Linked DNA regions of Homo sapiens. The protein of the gene in region 1 interacts with the protein of each later gene in a pairwise test. Each region holds a gene or a part of one and is shown on either strand. Other genes may lie near its edges.

What was found. The genes of interacting proteins can lie anywhere in the genome.
Region 2: the proteins of RWDD2A (region 1) and MCMBP interact in binary tests that used the Homo sapiens proteins (3 or more experiments, as listed by UniProt).
Region 3: the proteins of RWDD2A (region 1) and ARHGEF6 interact in binary tests that used the Homo sapiens proteins (3 or more experiments, as listed by UniProt).

Annotation. Positions count from the first base shown.
Region 1 is NC_000006.12:83,188,382-83,196,373, forward strand, and holds the start of RWDD2A (RWD domain-containing protein 2A), read left to right. Parts: upstream 1-4,975; 5' UTR 4,976-5,062; exon of another isoform or gene 5,063-5,930; 5' UTR 5,931-6,070; coding exon 6,071-6,271; exon of another isoform or gene 6,272-6,887; coding exon of another isoform or gene 6,888-6,890; intron 6,891-7,213; coding exon 7,214-7,891; 3' UTR 7,892-7,992. Other genes in the region: PGM3 (phosphoacetylglucosamine mutase), read right to left, coding at 233-417, 2,428-2,633, 2,806-2,887.
Region 2 is NC_000010.11:119,834,810-119,841,843, forward strand, and holds part of MCMBP (mini-chromosome maintenance complex-binding protein), read right to left. Parts: intron 6,152-7,034; coding exon 6,034-6,151; intron 3,892-6,033; coding exon 3,726-3,891; intron 2,221-3,725; coding exon 2,087-2,220; intron 896-2,086; coding exon 731-895; intron 1-730. UniProt on the Homo sapiens protein: Associated component of the MCM complex that acts as a regulator of DNA replication.
Region 3 is NC_000023.11:136,770,899-136,777,932, reverse strand, and holds part of ARHGEF6 (rho guanine nucleotide exchange factor 6), read left to right. Parts: intron 1-7,034. UniProt on the Homo sapiens protein: Acts as a RAC1 guanine nucleotide exchange factor (GEF).

The DNA.
Region 1 (7,992 bases):
TATTCTGCAGCTTGGGTTTTGGAGTAGGGTTTTAAACCAGAGTCAGACTCCAAACCCCAAGCTGCAGTAGTGACTTAGCTACTACATCCTACTAGAAAGGCCAGGCAGGTAGACATGCAACTCAGGGTAGTTCCACTTTACTTCTTTCCATTTGTCTTGGATTAAAACTGATACAATCGTTTATATCACGTTCCCAAAGGTTTTTTTTTTTACCAGTAACTCTTATCATCACCTGGTATCTCTACCAATAACTACAAAGGCATCTTGTTGCAGATTCACAGCTTCTTTCTCGCTGATGTCAATAAGCACTCTCTGCATATCTTGTTCCTCAGCATTTGCTAAACAGGTGGCATGTTCCTCCCAGGATGGTGCCAACATTTCACCCAAAGGATCAACCAATTTTACACCATTGTCTTCCTTAAAAGAAAAACAAACAATAAGCAATCTGTGCATACTCATGAGGCTGAGTTGAGAACAGAACTCAAAAGCTGTTTCCCTTCAACCAAAGACAGTGATGGCTGAGCAGCTTCAACAATAAACACCAAATATTAATACTGGACCCTGGATTAGGTATTTTATGTATATATATTACCTCATTAAATCCTCATGACACACATAATCAATTAAACTAATAATCCTATTTTAATTTCAATCTTCGAGAAAACTGAGCTTCAGAGAGGTTAGGTAATTTGCTTATGATCATACAGCTAACAAATGTCAGTACTGATATTAAAACAGCAAGTCTATCTTACTCGCCTAAAAACACTATGCCACACTAGCCTTTGTAAAAGGCTGTGATCTGTGCATCCACTATCCATAAACTGACTAGGGCACAAGTGGAGCAGAATAAGGGCACACAGAGATCCTTCTCACTATGACTCGGAACTCCAAGAACACACTAGCCAGCTTGTCAACCAGCGGGTAGGACAGACACTGAAAACTGCCTCCCAACACTGTTCTGCTCAAATTCGTGGAAAGAAAGTGTAGTTCACAGTGAATGTCACCTGAAAGAAAAGAGAATCATTTTGAGAAGTGCCTCTGGAACTAGCAATAAATGTGAGGGTCTTCCTAGAAGTCAATCAGTCAATCAATTATGGTGACTTACATATTTAGACATATACACATTTATAATGATCACATATTTGGACAAGCAATGCCCTTGTTTGGGGGAAGAGGAGGTTACAATCCTTCACAGACCTACACCACTTTAACTTGCTGCTGATTTAGCTACAAAGGCAAAAATCCCACAGCCCCAGCAATCAAATAGAAGCATATTATTCAAACCCTGTATTAATGGCCTATAGCTAATAAAGAATAACTACATTGTGTCAAGAGGTTGGCTAAGATATAGAAACAACAAAAGTGCTCATAAACAGATAAATGGATGAAGAAAATGTGGTATATATACACAATAGAATATTATTCAGCCTTAAAAAAGAAATACTGCCATTTGCATCATGGTTGAATCTGGAAGACATTATGCGAAGTTAAATAAGCCAGACACATGAAGACAAATACTGCAGGCTCATAACATACATGTGTTATGTAAAAAAGTGAAACTCACAGAAACACAGAGTAGTATGGTGGCGGCTAGAGGGTAAGGGAAATGGGGAGATGCTGGCCAATGGGCATAAACTTGCAGTTATAAGATGAATAAGTTCTGGAAGACTAACGTACAGCGTGGTGACTATAGTTCATAATAATATATATTGAAAATGTGTTGAGCGTACGTCTTAAGTATTCCCACCACAAAACAAGGTAACTATGTGAGCTAATGGATATGTTAATTAGCCTGATAGTGGTAATCATTTCACAATGTATACATATATCAAAACATGGTGTTGTATGACTTGAATTATACAATTTTTATTTATCACTTATACCTCAATAAAGCTGAAAAAATAATTGTGTCAAAAAGAATACTTTGATTAAAATCTAACTGTCACAAAGACTAGAACTATCAGGCGTCATCAATATTCTGCCAAAGCTCACCTGTTTGTTCATTCAGAACAAGAAATTATTGCCGAGCTATAAAAACCTGTCTGAAAATGTTCAAAATGTTTCTTTTCAAATCTTTACCCTTCCCCACCCAACCCCAATATCTTTAATCACTGCTAAGTTAACAAAGGAAACAATTTTCAATTACTGAAAATGTCTTAAATCAATAAATTTGGAAGGACATTGTTATTTCTCTAATATGGACACTCCAAAAAATGACAGTATCTTTTCATTCTTTCCACACCCTTAGGAATCATGAGCTTAATGATCATGCTCTTAAAAAAAAAAAGTTGTTTCACATCCAAAGCACATATAAATGAGAAGGCACATTCCTAGAATTAGAATTTGTACTTTAGGTCAATTTGCTCAGACACTAAGGCTTGGTCTTGTAAATAATGGTCTGCTTTATCAGGGCACTAAACCCATTACCTCAGGATTGTGGGACGCTGTTACCATGACTCCTATAGTGGATTTTGTCTGTTTTGACCTCAGGACAGCTAATAATCCCATGCGAAACATGACATGATCAAGATGTTCTGCCTTCGTTCGAAATCCAGCAGTCCCGTATTGAAGGATCAGTCCATTGGGCTTGGCGTGTAATGCTGAGTATTTTGTAATAGCACCTAAATCCATGTCTACAAAATTAAGAAATATTGTTTCGGGCATAACAAGTAATTTCTTAAGAACCATTTGCTTCAAAAACTGCCACCCCAAACGAATAGGTCTGTCTCATCCTGAACCTCCTCAAAGAACCCTATGTTTGACAGAGCAATGGGCAGGAGAGTAAGTCCTGTGGGTTAGAATTACCTACAAGATGTTGTCCAACTTGGTATGTCCACTCCTGGGCAGACTCAGGGCAGATAGCAGATTGTCCCCACTCTCCTCCCATTTTAGCTCCAGGACTATCCTGGACGCCGGGCACACTTAAATTGGTCCACTCTCAACTAAAATGAAGATTTTACACCTATTCAGAGACTCCAATGAGCTCAAAGATCATTTCATTTTACAAAAAGGGAAACTAACCTAAATTAACATAGATAGCTGGTGACGGATTGAGGCCTAAAGTCAGATTCTTGAGTGGACTGAAACTACATATCCCCAAATATCTGAGAAATCTTTGTGGTTCTTTTGCTATTTCTCCCAAACTACAGAGACATATTCTTAAAGGAAAAGCAAAAGGCAACAGTTTCTTCTCCAAGACTACCCAGATCTTTTTCCATTTGCTAAAAACAATCAGGACACCCTTCTAAGATGTTGCTCTAAAACTAGCAATATCTTCTTCTGAAAGAATGCCACCTTTTTCCTTTACTTTTAAAAATAAAACATCGGCCGGGAGCGGTGGCTCACGCCAGTAATCTTAGCACTTTGAGAGGCCAAGGCAGGCGGATCACCTGAGGTCAGGAGTTTGAAACCAGCCTGGCCAACATGGCGAAACCGCCTCTCTATTAAAAATACAAAAAAATTAGTCGGGCGTGTTAGCTGGCGCCTGTAATCCCAGCTACTCGGGAGGCAGAGGTTGCAGTGAGCCGAGATCGCGCCACTGCACTCCAGCCTGGGTGACAAAGGGAGACTCGGTCTCAAAAAAAAAAAAAAAAAAAAAAAACAGGCCAGGTGAGGTGGCTCAGGCCTGTAATCCCGGCATTTTGGGAGGCCAAGGCGGGCGGATCACGAGGTCAGGAATTCAAGACCAGCCTGACCAACATGGTGAGACCCTTGTCTCTACTAAAAATACAAAAAGTAGCCTGGCGTGGTGGTGCGCGCCTGTAGTCCCAGCTACTCAGGAGGCTGACGCAGGAGAATCGCTTGAACCCGCGGGTGGAGGTCGCAGTGAGCCGAGATCGCGCCACTGCACTCCAGGCTGGGCGACAGGGTGAGACTCCGTCTCAAAACAAACAACAACAAAAAATCGGCCCTTAGCCCACTAATACTGTTTTCTCTGGGATACTCCCATTAAGTGGAACTTGGGGTTTCCAACCTCAGTCAGTAGTTTTCCTTCAGTAGTCCATATACTACATTTCCTGGGTCAATTAATTCCCAATTAGCCCAGAGATGAGGAGCAGTCCGCCAGCTGCTAGCCTCATAATTTTGTTTTCTTTATTGTCCTTCATTGCTTCAATGAACAGAACTTGCAAGAAATGGTGAAAAATACTTGCTTTTGTCCAGTTGGAAAAAGCTGGCATTCAGTAAACTAATTTAGTTCAAGACAGTGATCAGATCTCTTTCCTAAGGATGAATACATATTTGTAAAAACTGAGCAGTCAGTTATGTGTCATGATTATTCATAAGAGTGTAAACCAGTCCTGTTAACTCCAAAAAGCCATTAAAAAAAAAAAGGTCCAGATAATATGAGTTCATCCTTTCATGCGTTTTAGGCCCTACAACTACTTTCAATGCCTCTGCGAATGCCTTTATTGAAAGCATATTTGCCAAATCCAGCGTCCACGCAAAAAGTTAAGAGTATCCCCCTACTCTCCATTCAATCTTCAAATCTCCTTGGTGCCTCTCTCCCGCCTACCCTCGAATCACCGCACAAGGGTGATTCCCGGCACTCCACCCTGAGGTCCCCGCCTAGGTCCACGTACCAGAGCCCCGGCAGGAGACCCGCGGCCCGTCCCGACCAGCCCGCCCGCGGGGCGCAGGGGCCTGTAGGTGTGTCCCGCGCGCTCCGCCGCTCGGTCAGTCGCCCGCCAGACCACTAGCCCCTCCGTCGGGCCGAGAATCTGACCTGTCCCGCTCCCACCGAGCCCTTGCCGACCGGTAGTCTCCCTTCTCAACTCCGAGCCTCGGGGCCCGGCTTACCTCGGTCAGGAAGCCCCCTTCACCTACACGCAGCGGAGAAGCGCCCAAGCAACAACGTCTGCACCCAAACCCAGTCCTCAGAACCGCAGACGTGGCCCTGCGTGGCTTCCGGCTCGTCGCCACGCCCCCTGGCCAATCACGGCAGAGGACTATCCGCCAGCCCCGCCCCCGCCTCGCCGCAGGTCGCGCGCAGCTGGCGCCTGAGGAACTGCGGCTGCGGTTCCGAGCGGGGTCTGGGGCTGTTACCATTGAGTGACCAGAAAGGGTGAGGCCCCCGCGGTGGCCCGGGGGTTGGGGCCGAGGGTCGCGGGCCCTCAGAGCACTGCGGCCGCGGAGGCACAGCCTCCGCCTCCAAATCCGGGCCTCTGGGGGCGGCAGGCCCTGCGTTCCTGGGAAGCCGGGGTTCCTAGTGGTCTTGGCTAGGGGCGGGGGTGGGGAATCAGCCCCGTCGCTGGGCCTCGGACAGGGCGACCTCGCCCACAGTGAGCGCCGCCGGCGGCCCGCATCCCCCTCTCCGACGTCGAGGTCATCTCCCAAACCTTTGAATCTGGGAAGCCTTCTCCGGCTGCCGTCTCCCCGGGTACCCCCTTCCCCCAGCTCACTGTAAACATCTTTTATTTAATGACCTCTGAGACACCCCCTACCCTTATCCTGGGTCCCTCGGGGCAGAGGCCAGTGAATCGTAAACGTCCGGAGCCCTGGAATGCGGCCCAAGCGAAAAGGCCACCGCGGTGTTGGGGGGGGGCGGTCCGCGAGTCCAGGACCGAGGGGTGGCGACTGGCGCTGGGGAACTCGGAGCCCATCCTGCTGGCACTGCGGCCTCTCTCGCCGCAGCGTCTGGCTCCGCCCAAGCCCGAGCCCCGGGTGGGATTGGAAGCCGGGCCCCAGCCTTTCCCAGAATTCAGGCTTGCAGAGCGTCTGCAGGTGTCTGCCTGCCACCTGCAGCGGGACAGTTCCAAACACCTGTTGAAAGTGCAGATTCCCCTATCTAGTGCGGGGTGCGGGAGGCGGGAACCCGGAGCCCGGGTACGCAGAATATGGGTTTTTACGGAGTGTTTTAGAGGATGTTGTGCATACTAGATTTTGGAGTCAGGAAATAAAGAAGAGTGCAAGTGTCTGGTTTGTGCCCCTAGCTCTCGGTGCAAAGCGTTCCTGCAGAATTGCTTCCACGTAAAGGGACCTTCGGGAAATTTCGCTGGATACCGGCTGGCATTGACAAACCCAGCGTCCCTGAGCCTTGTGAGGTTTCCAGGCAGGCTGATTGCGAGGCAACATGTCTGCTTCGGTGAAAGAAAGCCTTCAGCTTCAGCTACTGGAGATGGAAATGCTGTTTTCTATGTTTCCTAACCAAGGAGAAGTAAAACTTGAAGATGTAAATGCCCTGACGAATATAAAGAGGTATTTGGAAGGCACAAGGGAGGCGCTGCCACCAAAAATCGAATTTGTAATTACACTCCAGATTGAAGAGCCCAAGGTAGGTACCCTGATTTAAGTGTTTGCCAGGTGCCCAGTTTTTAATTGAAACATCTAGAACATGAGCTTTCTGTCAAGGAAAGATAGAAATATTCCAGGTGCATATTTCCTTGTTTGAAAGATACGGAATGCTCTATAAATTGTCTTCAGTAAATATCTTTAATTTTATGTAAACATATACACCTTTTTAACAAATATACCTGGAGTTTTTATTGACGCTATCTTGCAGTCTTATGCCATTATTATTTTGTTCACCCATCCAGTTGGACTACCTTTCACATGTATCATGATTTTCATAAATCTAAATATCTCCTGTAACATAACTGTCTTTTAAGGAGTGAATGAGTGGATTTTTTGATGGCACCATAACACAGAAAGCAAATATGGATGGAAAAATCTAAAGACTAAAAATGAATTTACCTCCATCTTCTGATCCATTTATCTCCAGCAACATTAGCATAGCATAGGTAATACGTGGACTGGGCATTTGAGAACCACTGTTGTAGCTATTTCCTACTCATCCTTCAGTTGTTATTCCCTCAGAGGAGACTTTCTGGTTCTCCAGACTGGATTCTGTCCCGCTGGTTACACACTTCAATGGAACCCTCCACTTTTCCATGGTAATGCTTTTCACAATTGAAATTAAATACTTGCTATATGTAATTATTTGTTTAATGTGTGTCTCCTTCACTAGGCCCTGGACTTCATGAAGGGCAAAAATAGTGTCTGGTTTATTCACTTTTTTATCCCAGCACAAGGGCACCTGGCACACGTAGTTGTTCAATAAATATTGAAATAATGCATAAAAGGAAGCAATCATGTATGTAAAGTACCTGGTACATTTAATAGTAGCAATAACATTTCTCAAAATCATGCAGTTGCTATTGATAAACTAGCTTATGTGATGTTATGGTATTTAAATCTATTTGATTTTCATTTTAAGGTGAAAATTGATTTGCAAGTGACCATGCCTCACAGCTACCCCTATGTAGCATTGCAGCTGTTTGGACGGTCATCTGAACTTGACAGACATCAGCAGCTACTTCTCAACAAAGGTCTCACTTCTTACATAGGGACTTTTGATCCAGGTGAGCTCTGTGTATGTGCAGCAATCCAGTGGCTACAGGACAACAGTGCATCTTATTTCCTGAACAGAAAGCTTGTATATGAACCATCTACACAAGCAAAGCCAGTCAAGAACACATTCCTCCGAATGTGGATCTACAGTCACCATATATATCAGCAGGACCTAAGGAAAAAGATTTTGGATGTTGGGAAAAGGTTAGATGTGACTGGATTTTGCATGACAGGAAAGCCTGGTATAATCTGTGTGGAGGGTTTCAAAGAGCACTGTGAGGAGTTCTGGCACACAATTAGGTACCCCAATTGGAAGCACATTTCCTGTAAGCATGCTGAAAGCGTGGAGACAGAAGGAAATGGTGAGGACCTGCGCCTTTTCCATTCTTTTGAAGAGTTACTCCTTGAGGCTCATGGTGACTATGGATTAAGGAATGACTATCACATGAATCTGGGCCAATTCTTAGAATTTCTCAAGAAGCACAAAAGTGAGCATGTTTTTCAGATACTATTTGGTATTGAAAGCAAAAGTTCAGACTCATAAAAAGCGATTAAGAGGCCTATGCCTGTAATTTCACTAAGTCAGTATTTCTGTTAATAAGACCAAATTAAAAAGGCTAGTGGCTGTGTAGCATCCTCAGTGCA
Region 2 (7,034 bases), on another chromosome or scaffold:
CATGATCACAACACTGCACTCTAGCCTGGATGACACAGCGAGACCCTGTCTCAAAAAAAAAAAAAAAAAAAAAAAAGAATTTGCACAAGTAGACCTGCCATGCAAGAAACACTAAAGACAGTTCTTCAGGCTGAAATGAAAAGATACTAGACAGTAACATGAACCCACATGAGGAAATAAAGGGTGCTGGTAAAAGTGATTGCATAGGCAAATAGAAAAAATAGTACAGAAGTCTTTTCCATTTCTAACTTTTTTCTCTAAAAGACAACTGCAAAAGCAGTAATTCTAAATGTGTTGATGGACATACAATGTACTGAGAGGTAATTGTATGACAGGAGCACAAGGGAGAGGAGAAGGAACGGAATTATAAAGGGGCAAAGTCTTTGTATAATATAATTAAAATGGCATTAGCCACACAAATTTTTTTTAAATTAAAAATAACTAAACAAACTGGCATTAATCCCTAATAGATGATTATACTAACATGTTAAGTTTATCCCCCAAAGACAACTACTAAGAAAATAACTTTAAGAAACTTCAAGGGATTAAAATGGGACACTGGAAAATACCTATTTCAAACAAAAAGACAATAATGGAGTAACAGAGGAATAAAAAAAGACATGACAGAAAACAAATAACAAAATTACCTTATCAGTAATTATGGTAAATGTAAATTGGTTGCATACTGCAATTCAACACAGGGAAATCCTTTATTTTAACCTAGACATACCTTGGTTATTTCATCAGATATGCTATATTCCAAGAATCTCAAAAGAGTTAGATAAATGCGGAATTTGTTCAGCACGGAAGGCAGCACCGCTGAGAGAAGGCTGTTCATGTACTCCTCCATGTTTGGTGGAATTAGCTGGGGCTGTAAGTGAATCTGGCAGTCTGCCTGAAAAGAGAAGGAGTACACTGTATTTTCTGAGTTCCTAAATTAATCTACATTTTTAAAGAAAGATGCATCATCTCTGTCAGCCCCTATGGGAATTAGAAAATACCACTTATTATTTAGGGGGAGGGAATAATGTTTTTTTTTCTGTGTGTGAGACAGGGTTTTGTCCTGTCACCCAGGCTGGAGTGCAGTGGTGTGATTGCAGCTCACTGCAACCTGCTTCCCAGGCTCAAGTGATCCTCCCACCTCAGCCTCCTCAGTAGTGGGACCACAGGTGCACGCCACCATGCCTGACTAATTTTGGATTTTTTGTAGAGACAAGTTTCGTCATGTTGTCCAGGCTGGCCTCAAAGTTCTGGGCTCACGCAATCCACCTGCCTTGGCCTCCCAAAGTGCTAGGATTACAGGCGTGAGCCACCGCAGCCAGTGAGCATCTATTTTTAATATTAATTTACATGCTTTATAACTACCTCAGAAATAATTATGAAAGCTTTTTCTTGGTTACTTATGTTTCCTCAATGGTATCAGTAAGCACACAAAAATGTAGCCAACCTCTAAAAAGCAGCTAATTAAAAAGGTCTATCAATACTTGCACACAGAAAACATATCCTTGAGCCATTTCATTCTTAGTCAAAGGCGGTTTCTCATCAATCGCAGGTGAATACTATTATTCAGAGACTACACACCATTTGACAACTGGGAGCATTTCCCATCATCCACAGAATTAAAAGCTCTCTTTACCAGCCACTCTGAAGACATACCAGAGCATTTCACCACAAAGCATGAAAATAACTACCAAGTGACCAAGGACATTTTAAAAGAACTCTGAAATATTTTTCACATAAGATTAGCAGAAAACAATGGGTCAAAGGTAGCAAGAACAGAAGTCTGGATGTTAAAATCAGGCAATCTCGCTATGCTCAGATGTGGGTGTTTCTGCTGCCAACAGCCTTGCTGGTCTCATGACTTGCTGATACCTGAGCTTGGTAGATGTAAGGTTTTCATCCATGGCAGTGCAAAATACTCAATTCCCTTAATGATCAGCAGTCACAGTTTTTTTTTTTTTTTTTTTTTTTTTTTTTTTTTTTTTACAACAAATGTAACTTATTAATAAGCGGTACCAAGAAACAGCAAAAATGTAGGTATTTTTCCAATGTCAACCTCCCTCCATTTAAAAATGACTCATCATACCGGGAGGAGTGACCTCCCCTCCGAAGTAATGAAAACGTTAATATTGCAGGGGAATTCCATCTGATGGTAGCTGAAGTCATAATCCACCTTCTGCCACGTTATGAGGTTGCTCAGGGCTGTCACATTATGAACACCTACAAAGGCAGGAAAACACTTTCAGTCATTTGACTTTAATCATCTAAACACATCAGTTTTGCTGACACCGATGATGAGCCATGAAGTTTCTACCACTTTTAATAAAGGGTATGAGGCGCTGTCCAGTTTACTAAGCTAAACGTCACTAAGTGTGTAGGCTTACAACAGTCTTGGTCAAGGTAGAACTTTCTGGGGGCAGGCGATACCCCCGCAAATCTAATACCTAGCATCTGGTATGCACCTAGACATAAAATAGTTCCCAAGTATGATTATTTCTAAGTGGTGTATTTACAGGGCTAAACCAAGGAAACACTAAAACTACCGTCATACATAGATCAGCCTAGTGAATTTTACAGATTTTATATTCCCCTTTGCCTTAAACATGCCCAGTCTACCTCATTTTTTCTTCTACCTTTACCTCTTGAGCTGATCGCCAGCAGTGTATTCTTAATTGTCTTCATTTGAGCACTGGTAAACAATCTGCTTTCTTGTGATTTTATAATATATTCCGCAACTGAGGTTAGTGCAAACCATTTGATCTATTATTTCTCAGACATTCTCTGAAAACCATTTACAAACTTTACAACGGGAGGTTAAAACATAATTAGCCAGGCGTGATGGCGGGTGCCTGTAGTCCCAGCTACTCGGGAGGCTGAGGCAGGAGAATGGTGTGAACCCGGGAGTTGGAGGTTGCAGTGAGCCAAGATTGGCCACTGCACTCCAGCCTGGGCGACAGAGCAAGACTCCGTCTCAAAACAAAAAAAAAATTATATTAGATCTTTTCTACACTTCCCTTTTGAGGTATTAGATGACTAAAGGCAAAGCTTCCTCCCATTTCAGCTTTTTAAAAAGCTATTTGGGGCAGGTGCAGTGGCTCACACCTGTAATCCCAGCACTGTGGGAGGCCAAGGCAGGAGGATCACTTGAGCCCAGGAATTCAAGATCAGCTGGGCAACATAGCGAGACCCTGTCTCTACCATTCCTTACACTCACTGAAAAAAAAATTTTAGGTTATATACAACTACGCAAAAGAACCCAACACTGTAGGCCCATAAAGACTGCTCCAACCATTCGCTGACACAATAAAACTTTTCACCAAAGAACCCTTACGACCCTCAACATCTAATACTACCCTTTATATTACTGCTCCATTATACTAATACTACCCTTTATATTATTGCTCCATTATATAATATATAAAATATATAATATATGATATATATTAAATGAGACATTATATATTATATATGATATATATTATATAAGATATATTATATAAGATATATATCTGTTCCATTGTACTACTTTCAGAATACTATGGCAAAACATAGTTGGTGTATATAATTAGTTTATAACATATGCTTTAATCAAATTCATATGCCAAGCCTTTATCTTACGTTGTTAAATGTGAATTTGTCCATAGATACTCTTCTAAAAGTTATTCCTAGATCTGGCTTTAGTGCGAAGGAAGTCAGAAATGGAAGAGAAACATCTATGTACGTACCTGGGGTATCCAGCTGCCCCTGTTCCAGGAGAGTCTCATCGATTACAAGGGAAGTATTGCTGGGCAGCTGGAGGAGCCCACTGACCAAGCGATTGGCTGTGTAGTCTTTGTGGGGAATGAATTTCAAATGGTTCATGTTCTCTATAGTCATCTGCAGACGAAAAGACTGCAAAGAGAAATTTTTTAGTGAACAAGAATTTAAGTTTCCCTGTTTTAAGAAAATATGTACTTGGAATTAAACATTGTGTTTCATATGGAAAAAGTGATCTTATAAATTTCTAAGGGAGTAGTGATATGGTTTCTTGAACTCCAGAAGCAAAAATAGTATCTAGATCTTACATTTGAATTTCATCCATTTTATGAGCTACTTTATTCTCAAATGTCTTGTTCAATATTCTTGAAAATCAATTTTAATTTAACCAATGAAACAAATGGTAGATAACTGACATATAAATATTAAATACCCCAAAACCTAACCTCTTTCACCTAACACAAGCTAGCTAGCAAAAAGAAAATGTTAATTTTACTCTTCAAGACAGGGAGAGAAAAGCTTAATTTTCCTCTATATTCTTTGAGTTAAAATTGTATTCATTTATCATAGACATTTTTGAACAAACTTTTCAGAGAAAAATCAAGGAGCAGAGCACACTGAGCTGTGGATGGACCTGCAGCTCTCAGGAGGTGCCTCCAGGACGCGAGCACCTTCTCACTCAGTGTTTAACGAGTAAGCGAACCATCTATGCTCCTCCTCCAGCTCTTGAGCCACCATTCCCAACACCCTCTGTGCTCTGCCTTATACACCAATCCATTCTTCCATCCCTCCAGCCTCAAACAATGTGGCAGGGATGGAGAAGAGGGTATGGTGGGGGAAGGCTGTCAAGGAAGAGGTAAGATATATTGCGAAAATTTAGAGGAGTTTTGTGTATTACCTCAGTGATTCTAAGAAAACGGGGAGCTTAGGGGTGCTTAAATGACCTACCATGTATTAATTTATTTGTTGGTCTTCTACCTAAACTCTGTGAGGGCAAAGGATCTGTTTCAATAATTCTCAAAATGTGGTCCCGAGAACCCCCAGGGAATTGCTTAAACCCTTTTACAGGGTCAATCAGGTCAAAATCATGCATGGATAAAAGATCCTTTCAATGTGCGAGACTAATGAATTTTACCATAGCAGACTATGGAAAGTTTACGAATAGGATTTCAGATTCCACACTTAACTATCTTTAAGAAAATCTCATGTGGACAGTTTTGGTCTAGTATCAAAGACCACCACCCAGTTATCTGCAAAGGCTATCGAAACCATCCTTCCTTTACCATCTACTTTTCCATCTGTGTGAGGCCAGCTTTCCTTCATATACTTCAACCAAAACCTGAGACTACAATAGACTGAAGGCAGAAGCAGATACAAGCATCCATTGTCTCCTATTAATCCAGACATTGAAGAGATTTGCAAGAATGTAAAACAATGTCACCTTTATCACTAATCATTTTTGGCTTGGGAAAAGTTGTTTTTATAAAAATATTTATATGTAATTTTTTATTTTTAATAGGTGTATTTACTTTATCTTCTAGTTTGGTAAATTAATGATAAATATAATCATAACGTGAAAAACAGCTCTTTGAGTATGAACACATTTTTCAGAGTGTAAAGTGAGTCTAAGGAGACTGAGAACTGCTGGTATATTCCAGTCCACTTCTGCTTCTTGAGGGCCTGGACGAGTGTTAGCACTGAGACACTGAATACATTCGGTTCAATAAAGATCTAGTGCACCCTCTTCAATTTCCAAAGAAGTGATCAGTATTTTCAGTCACACAACTAATCAGAAGCAATTCCCCTGTTCCCAAGATCCTACCACCACGCAAATACTGCATTCCAGATACCCTGGCAAATAAAGTGAGCTCAACTTTCCAAACAGGAATTAAAATTGAGGCAATGGAGATAAAGAACTTTATTACCTCAACTAAAAGAATTATGCTCCTACAATTTAGAGTTTATTTAGATTTAAGACTTTAGTGTACAAAAAGGATACCAAATTGGACAAATTGGTATCAAGAGAGTGTAATTTTAAGGGAGTTACTACAATTGTTTTGTTAGACTTACAGAAATTTGTGCTTAGGCAAAAAGACAAAAAAAAGTGAAATGTTTAGGGGAACGTACATTTTAAATTATGTAATTTGGCAGGCTTTGTTTCCCCTTAAATAAGATCTATTAAAATCTCTAAGTTAAATATTTGAAGTGAATGAAAGACAGTTAGATGGATTTTTTAAGTGTGCTTAGGTTTATAATACATATTTATATTCATCTTACTGCTGGAACAAGATGTTGAATAATTCGATACAAGTGTTCTGTGAAGGTACTATTCCGTGGGCAACCACTCAAGTTAACTGTAAATTTTCCTAGTGGAAGGACATCTCTTCTTGTATATCTAGAAAAGAAAGAAATCAATCAATAAGATGCTGAAGTGACTTCCTGATTTCTATCAAATAGCGAAGAATAGAAAAATTAGCTTAATATTGTCATTAAAAATAAACCAGAATATTCTGACCAGTTATTTTATCAGAATAACAGCAATAAAAGTAATAGCCAATATTTGTACGTAAGTGCTGCTGGTCACGTGCCAAAGACCGTTCTGAGTATGTAAATGCTTCCTCATTTAACCCCTAACCATTCAGCGGTAGGTGCTGTTGTCTTTGCTTCACAGATGAGAAATCCGAGGCACAGAGATGATAATAAGCAACATGTTCATCTAAATGGAAGCTGACAGAGCTGGGATATGAATCCGGGTAGTTTGGTTCCAGAGCCTGTGCTCTCAACCATTATGTACTACTGTCACAGACTGATTTGAGAAAAGATAAGATTTACAGCACAAAGATGTTTCCTGCAACTTTATAATAGAGAAAAGCTAGGAAAAGCTAACATTTAGGGAAATGGTTACAGTATGGTACAACTGCATAGTGAAATACTTTGCAGCCACTACAAAGTTCATGAAGCATTATGATGGGAAAATGTTTAATATATATCAACTGCTGAAAACAAGACACGCATCTGTGCTTAGAGTGTAACTAAGACCTATGCAAGGATGTATACATATGTAAACAAAAACCAATGAACATGTACCTAAAGGTTAACGGAGGTTCTAAGTGGTGAAATTACAGATGATGTGCATTTTCCTCCTTATGTTCTTGGAACTTGTCAAAGGCCCACACTAGTTTTAAAATGAGAAACAAAGAAATACAGTGGAGTCAAGGGATGCGGTGCTAGTGTCAATGTCCACGTTAAACGTGCACATGACGTGGGCGCCTTGGGAT
Region 3 (7,034 bases), on another chromosome or scaffold:
TTAGCTCCCCCTTATAAGTGAGAACATATGATGTTTGGTTTTCCATTCCTGAGTTACTTCCCTTAGAATAATGGTCTCCACCTCCACCCAGGTTGTCGTGAATGCCATTATTTTGTTCCTTCTTATGGCTGAGTAGTATTCCATGGTGTGTGTGTGTGTGTGTGTGTGTGTATGTATACATATTATATATATGTATATTACATTTTCTTTATCCACTCTTTGGCTGATGGGCATTTAGGCTGGGTCCATAACTTTGCAATTGCAAATTGTGCTACTATAAATATGTGTGTGCAAGTGTCCTTTTCATATAGTGACTTCTTTTCCTCTGGGTAGATACTCAGTAGTAGGATTACTGGATCAAATGGTAGTTCTACTTTTACTTCTTTAAGGAATCTCCATACTTAAGGTTTTCCATAGTGGTTGTACTAGTTTACATTCCCACCAGCAGTGTAGAAGTGTTTCCTTTTCACCACATTCATGCCAACATCTAATATTTTTTGTTTTTTTTTTAATTGTGGCCATTTCTGCAGGAGTGAGGTGATATCTCATTGTGGTTTGATTTGCATTTCCAGTGCTTAGTGATGTTGAGCATTTTTTCATATGTTTCTTGGCCATTTGTATATGTTCTTTGAGAATTGTCTATTCATGTCCTTAGCCCACTTTTTGATGGGATTATTTGTTTTTTGTTTTTGTTTTGTTTTGTTTTTTGAGACTGAGTCTCACTCTGTTGCCCAAGCTGGAATGCAGTGGTGTGATCTTGGCTCACTGCAACCTCTACCTCCCTGGTTCCAGCGATTCTCCTGCCTCAGCCTCCTGAGTAGCTGGGAATACAGGCGCCCGCCACCATGCCTGGCTAATTTTTGTGTTGTTAGTAGAGACAGGGTTTCACTATGTTGGCCAGGCTGGTCTCAAACTCCTGACCTCAGGTGATCCGCCCGCCTGGGTCTCCCAAAGTGCTGGGATTACAGGCGTGAGCCACCGCACCCGGCCTATTTGTTTATTTTTATTTCTACTTTATTTATTTATTTATTTATTTATTTATTTATTTATTTATCTATTTATTTATTTTTGCTGATTTGTTTGAGTTCCTTGTCGATTCTGGATATTAGACCTTTGTCAGATGCATAGTTTGGGAATATTTTCTCCCACATTGTGAGTTGTCTGTTTACTCTGCTGATTATTTATTTTGCTGTGCAGAAATTTTTTAGTTTAATTAGGTCCCATCTATTTATCTTTGTTTTTGTTGCCTTTGTTTTTGAGTTCTTGGTCATGAACTCTTTGCCAAAGCCAATACCTAGAAGAGTTTTTCCAATGTTGTCTTCTAGAATTTTTATGATTTCAGGTCTTAGATTTAAGTCCTTGGTCCATCTTGAGTTGATTTTTGTAGAGAGGTGAGAGATGAGAGATGCGGTGAGAGATGAGGATCCAGGTTCATTCTCCTACATGTGGCTTGCCAAATATCCCAGCACCATTTGTTGAATAGGGTGTCCTTTCCCCAGTTTATGTTTTTGTTTGCTTTGTCAAAGACCAGTTGGCTGTAAGTATTGGGCTTTATTTCTGGGTTCTCTATTCTGTGTCATTGGTTTATGTGCCTATTTTTATACCACTACCATGCTATTTTGGTAACTACAGGCTTGTAGTATAGTTTGAAGTCGGGTAATGTGATGCCTCTAGATTTGTTCTTTTTGTTTAATCTTGCTTTGGCTATGTGTGTTCTTTTTGGGTTTCATATGAATTTTAGGATTGTTTTTTCTAGTTCTGTCAAGAATTATTATGGTATTTTGATGGGAATTGCGTTGAATTTGTAGATTGTTTTTAGCAGTATGGTCTTTTTCACAATATTGATTCTACCCATCCATGAGCATGGGATGTGTTTCCATTTGTTTGTGTCATCTATGATTTCTTTCAGCAGTGTTTTGTAGTTTTCCTTGTAGAGATCTTTCACCTCCTGGGTTAGGTATATGCCTAAGTATATTATTTTTTTTGCAGCTGTTGTAAAAGGGGTTGAGTTCTTGATTTGATTCTCAGCTTGGTTGCTGTTGGTGTATAGTAGTGTTACTGACATATTGATTTTGTATCCTGAACTTTACTGAATTCATTTTTCAGATCTAGGAGCTTTTTGGATGAGTCTTTAGGGTTTTCTAGGTATACAATCATATCATCAGCAAACAGTGAGAGTTTGACTTCCTCTTTACCGATTTGGATGCCCCTTATTTCTTTCTTTTGTCTGATTGCTCTGGCTAGGACTTCCAGGACTATGTTGAACAGAAATGGTGAAAGGGGGCATCCTTGTCCAGTTCCAGTTCTCAGGAAGAATGTTTTCATCTTTTCCCTGTTCAATATAATGTTGGCTGTGGGTTTGTCATAGATGGCTTTTATTACCTTAAGGTATGTCCCTTCCATGCTGATTTTGTGGAGGGTTTTAATCATAAAGGGATGCTGGATTTTGTCAAATGCTTTTTCTGCATCTATTGAGATGATCATGTGATTTTTGTTTTTAATTCTGTTTATGTGGTGTATCACATTTATTGACTTGCATGTGTTAAACCAAACCTGCATCCCTGGTATGAAACCCATTTGATCATGGTGTATTATCTTTTTGATATGGTATTGGATTCAGTTACCTAGTATTTTGTTGAGAATTTTTGCATCTATGTTCATCAGGGGTACTGGTCTGTAGTTTTCTTTTTTTGTCATGTCTGTTTCTGGTTTTGGTTTGAGGGTAATACTGGCTTCATAGAATGATTTAGGGAGGATTATCTCTCTCTGTCTTTTGGGATAGTTTTAGAAGGATTGGTACCAATTTTTCTTTGAATGTCTGATAGAATCATGTGACATTTCAAGGAATTCATATATGTAAAGGCCCCAGAAGAGTGCCCGGAATGTAGTAAGTATTCTCTGCATGGTAGATATTATTATTAGCAATGCTGGTAGCTTTGCCCCAGATAAACTTTGCTTCCTTCACCATTTTTCCTAAAGTTAGCCCTAGGACCAGGTTATATCTGTTTCAGAATATTTTATTCCATTTTCCCCTATTGCCTAATTTGCACTCTCTCTCTCAATCTCTGTTTCTTTCTCTCTCTCTATTTATGTGTGGGTCTGTGTGTGTGACTTTTGAGGTAGGTGTGATGGGTGACCACTTTATATCCCTTGTAGAATAATGTCTACTATGGAATTTTCTTTTTTTTTTCTATTATGGTCCAGACTCTTCAGGAAATTTTAAATTTTTCTTTAATAAATACTATGATATTTTCTTTTTTATTCCTTTTTTTTTTTTTTTTTGAGACAGAGTTTTGCTCTGTCACCCAGTCTGGAGTGCAGTGGTGTCATCTCTGCTCACTGCAACCTCTGCCTCCTGGGCTCAAGCAATTCTCATGCCTCAGCCTCTCAAGTAGCTGGGATTACAGGCACGCGCCACCACGCCCGGCTAATTTTTGTATTTTTAGTAGAGACGGAGTTTCACCATGTTGGCCAGGCTGATCTCAAGCTCCTGACCTCAAGTGATCTGCCCACCTTGGCATCCCAAAATGCTGGGATTACAGGCATGAGCCACCACGCCTGGCCAATACTATGGTATTTTTTTTTTTCAAATAAAAACATGGTGAAGTTGCCAATGATTTCTGCATTCTAAAGCTGCCAGAAGGTTTACTTAGCTTCTTTGCAGTTCTAAGAATACTGGATGATACAGAAACACCTTCCAGGTTAGGCATTGTTCAGGATTTTTCTGATAACTAATGCTTACTCCTTTAAGCACCAATGCTTAAAATATTCTTCCACTTTGGATAGAAATATTTATTGTTTAAAAAAATTATGTTTATTACTTTTATTTTTTTATGGGACACTTCACAAATTTTTGTGTTATTCTCGTACAGGGGCCATATGAATATTCTCTGTATCGTTCCAATTTTAGTATATGGGCTGCTGAAGTGAGCACAAGATAGAAATATTTCTAAAATGTATGTCTTAATTTTCTCTCTTCTTAAATAAAAGGCACTGGAAACACTTTTATCTCTTTTTGGTAATTCATGCTGACCTGGGCATTATATGAATATTGTAATGAGGCAATATCTGACATCGTGGTTAAGCACATGCCTTCTCTAGTTTGGCAGACCTAGATTAGAATCTTGGCTTGGTCAATTACTGGCTGCATAACTCTGGGACAGTTACTTGACCTCTCTATGCTCCTTTTTCCTCATCTGTATAATGGAGACATTAATAGTATCTGCTGTATATGATTGTTTTAAGGATCAAATGAGATAATACATCCAAGGCACTTAATATAGCACTGCACATAAGGCATACACAATAGCTGTTTTCTGTGGTGTTATTACTCGGTAATGTTCTCTGCATTGTTGTGTGCAAAATTATTCTTGTAAGGTATATATAGGAGCCATATTGAGGCACTCCTAGAACCCAGAAAGAAGACTAATAAAATCAATACATAAGGAATGAGACCGAAAGCTGAGCTGGGGAGCACGAAGCAGCCAAGAAGACTCATCATCTTGTCTGAAGCTTCCAGGTAGCTGGAAGACAGACTTAAACATAAATATTTGCAAATGTCCCTGGATAGAGTCTCTCTCGGGCCCAAAGTGCCTGGCACAGTGCCTGGCATAGGACATACCTAATAGATTTTTGTTGACCCTATAAAACTGTAGATGTACAAAAAGCAAGAAGAGCAGGGCTTGACTGTTGCTTAGAACACAATATTATTTATCTAAAGAAAGCATACCGGCTTGAAATTGTCAGCTTGGAAATGCAGAAAAATGGAGCCGCAGATGCAGCACCGTACCGACAAATTGAGTACTGGGCTCTGGGGCATGGTGACGACATTAAAAAAGCTGTTGCCTTCTGGTCCTCTGGGTGGCCAGTCGGCTTCTCCAAGTAACCCCCATCTGTGTGTTCTCATATGGCTACAATGTCTTAGGGTCTTTAGAGGATCACACATTTAGTAACTGATCAGGAAAGTCTGCTGAGACATCTGGGAACAAAGTGCTCTCGGAAGCACCCCACCACCTTCTTGATAGTGTCCTTTGTAACACAATTTTTTTTGTTGTTGTTGTCTGTTTGTTTGAGACGGAGTCTTGCTCTGTCTCCCAGGCTGGAGTGCAGTGGCACAATCTTGGCTCACGGCAACTTTGGCCTCTTGGGTTCAAGTGATTCTCATGCCTCAGCCTCCCAAGTAGCTGGGATTACAGGTGCCTGCCACTATGCCTGGCTAATTTTTGTATTTTTAAGTAGAGACGGGGTTTTGCCATATTGTCCAGCCTCTCCTGGCCTCAAGTGATCCACCTGCCTCAGCCTCCCAAAAGGCTGGGATTACAGGCGTAAGCCACTGTGCCTGGCCCACAAAAATTTATTAATTAGACATTTTTGTTTTTTACTTTCAATTTTTGTGGGTACATAGCAGGTGTATATATTTGTGGGGTACATGAAATGTTGTGATACAGGCATGCAATGTGTAATAATCCCATCATGGAGAGTGGGGTATCCATACCCTCAAGCATTTATCCTTTGTGTTACAAACAATTCAATTACACTCTTTAAGTTATTTTAATAAGTACAATTATTATTGACTATAGTCACCCTGTTGTGCTATCAAATGGGCCTTATTCATTCTTTCAATTTTTTTTGTACCCATTAACCATTCCTGCCTCCTTCCCCAATATACTTCTCAGCCTCTGGTAACCTGTCTTCTACTCTCTATGCCCATTAGTTCAATTGTTTTTATTTTTAGATCCCACAAATAAGTGAGGACATGTGATGTTTGTCTTTCTGTACCTGGCTTATTTCACTTAACATAATGATCTCTAGTTCCATCCATGTTGTTGCAAATGACTGATTCTCATTCTTCTTTATGGCTGAATAGTACTCCATTGTGTATACATACCACATTTTCTTTATCCATTCATTTGTTGGTGGACAGTTAGGTTGCTTCCAAATCTTAGCTATTTGTGAACAGTACTGCAACAAACATAGGAGCGCCGTTATCTCTTCCATATACTGATTTCCTTTCTTTTGGGTAACATACCCAGCAGTGGGATTGCTGGATCATATGGTAGCTCAATTTTCAGTTTTTCGAGGCACCTCCAAACTGTCCATAATGGTTGTATTAATTTACGTTCCCACCAGCAGTGTATGAGGGTTCCCTTTTCTCCACATCCTCTCCAGCATTTGTTATTGCCTGTCCAAAAGTTTTTAATTTTGATGAAGTCAAATTCATCTCTTTTGTTGCTTGTGCTTTTGGTGTCATATCTAAGAAACTCATAATCAAATGTCTTGAAGAATTTTTTTCCTGTTTTCTCCTAAGAATAATATAGTTTTACTTCTTACATTAAGGTCTTTGATCTATTTTGAGTTAATTTTTGTATATGGTAGGAGGTACGGGTCCAAATTCATTCTTTTGCATATGCACATCCAGTTGTTTCAGTAACATTTGTTGAAAAGACAACATTAGCCAATTCCTCCATTGAACTGATTAATGTAGCTACGTAGTAAGTTTTAAAAGCGGGTCCTTCAACTTTGTTCTTCATTTTCAAAATCACTTTGGCCATTCTGGATCCCTCGCATGTCCATATGAATTTTAGGATCAGCTTGTCAATTTCTACAAAAAAGGCCAGCTGAGATTTTGATAGTGATTGTGTTCAATCTATAGATTGCTTTGGAGAGTGTTGCCATCTTAATAATATTAAATGTTTGAATCCATGAACATGGGATGTATTTCCACTTATTTGTCTTATGGGATGTATTTCCACTTATTTGTCTTTAGTTTCATTCAGCAATATTATGTACTTTTCAGTGTACATGTCTTATACCTGCTTGGTTCAATTTATTCCAAAGGATTTTATTATTTTTGGTGTTATAAAAAAATAGGATTGTTTTCTTGATTTGGTATTTAAATTGTTCACTGCAAGTGTATAGAAATATAATTATTTTTTTGAGACAAGGTCTTACTCTGTTGCCCAGGCTGGAGTGCAGTGGTGTGATTACAGCTCACTGCAGTCTCAAACTCCTGGGCTCAGGTGATTGTCCTACCT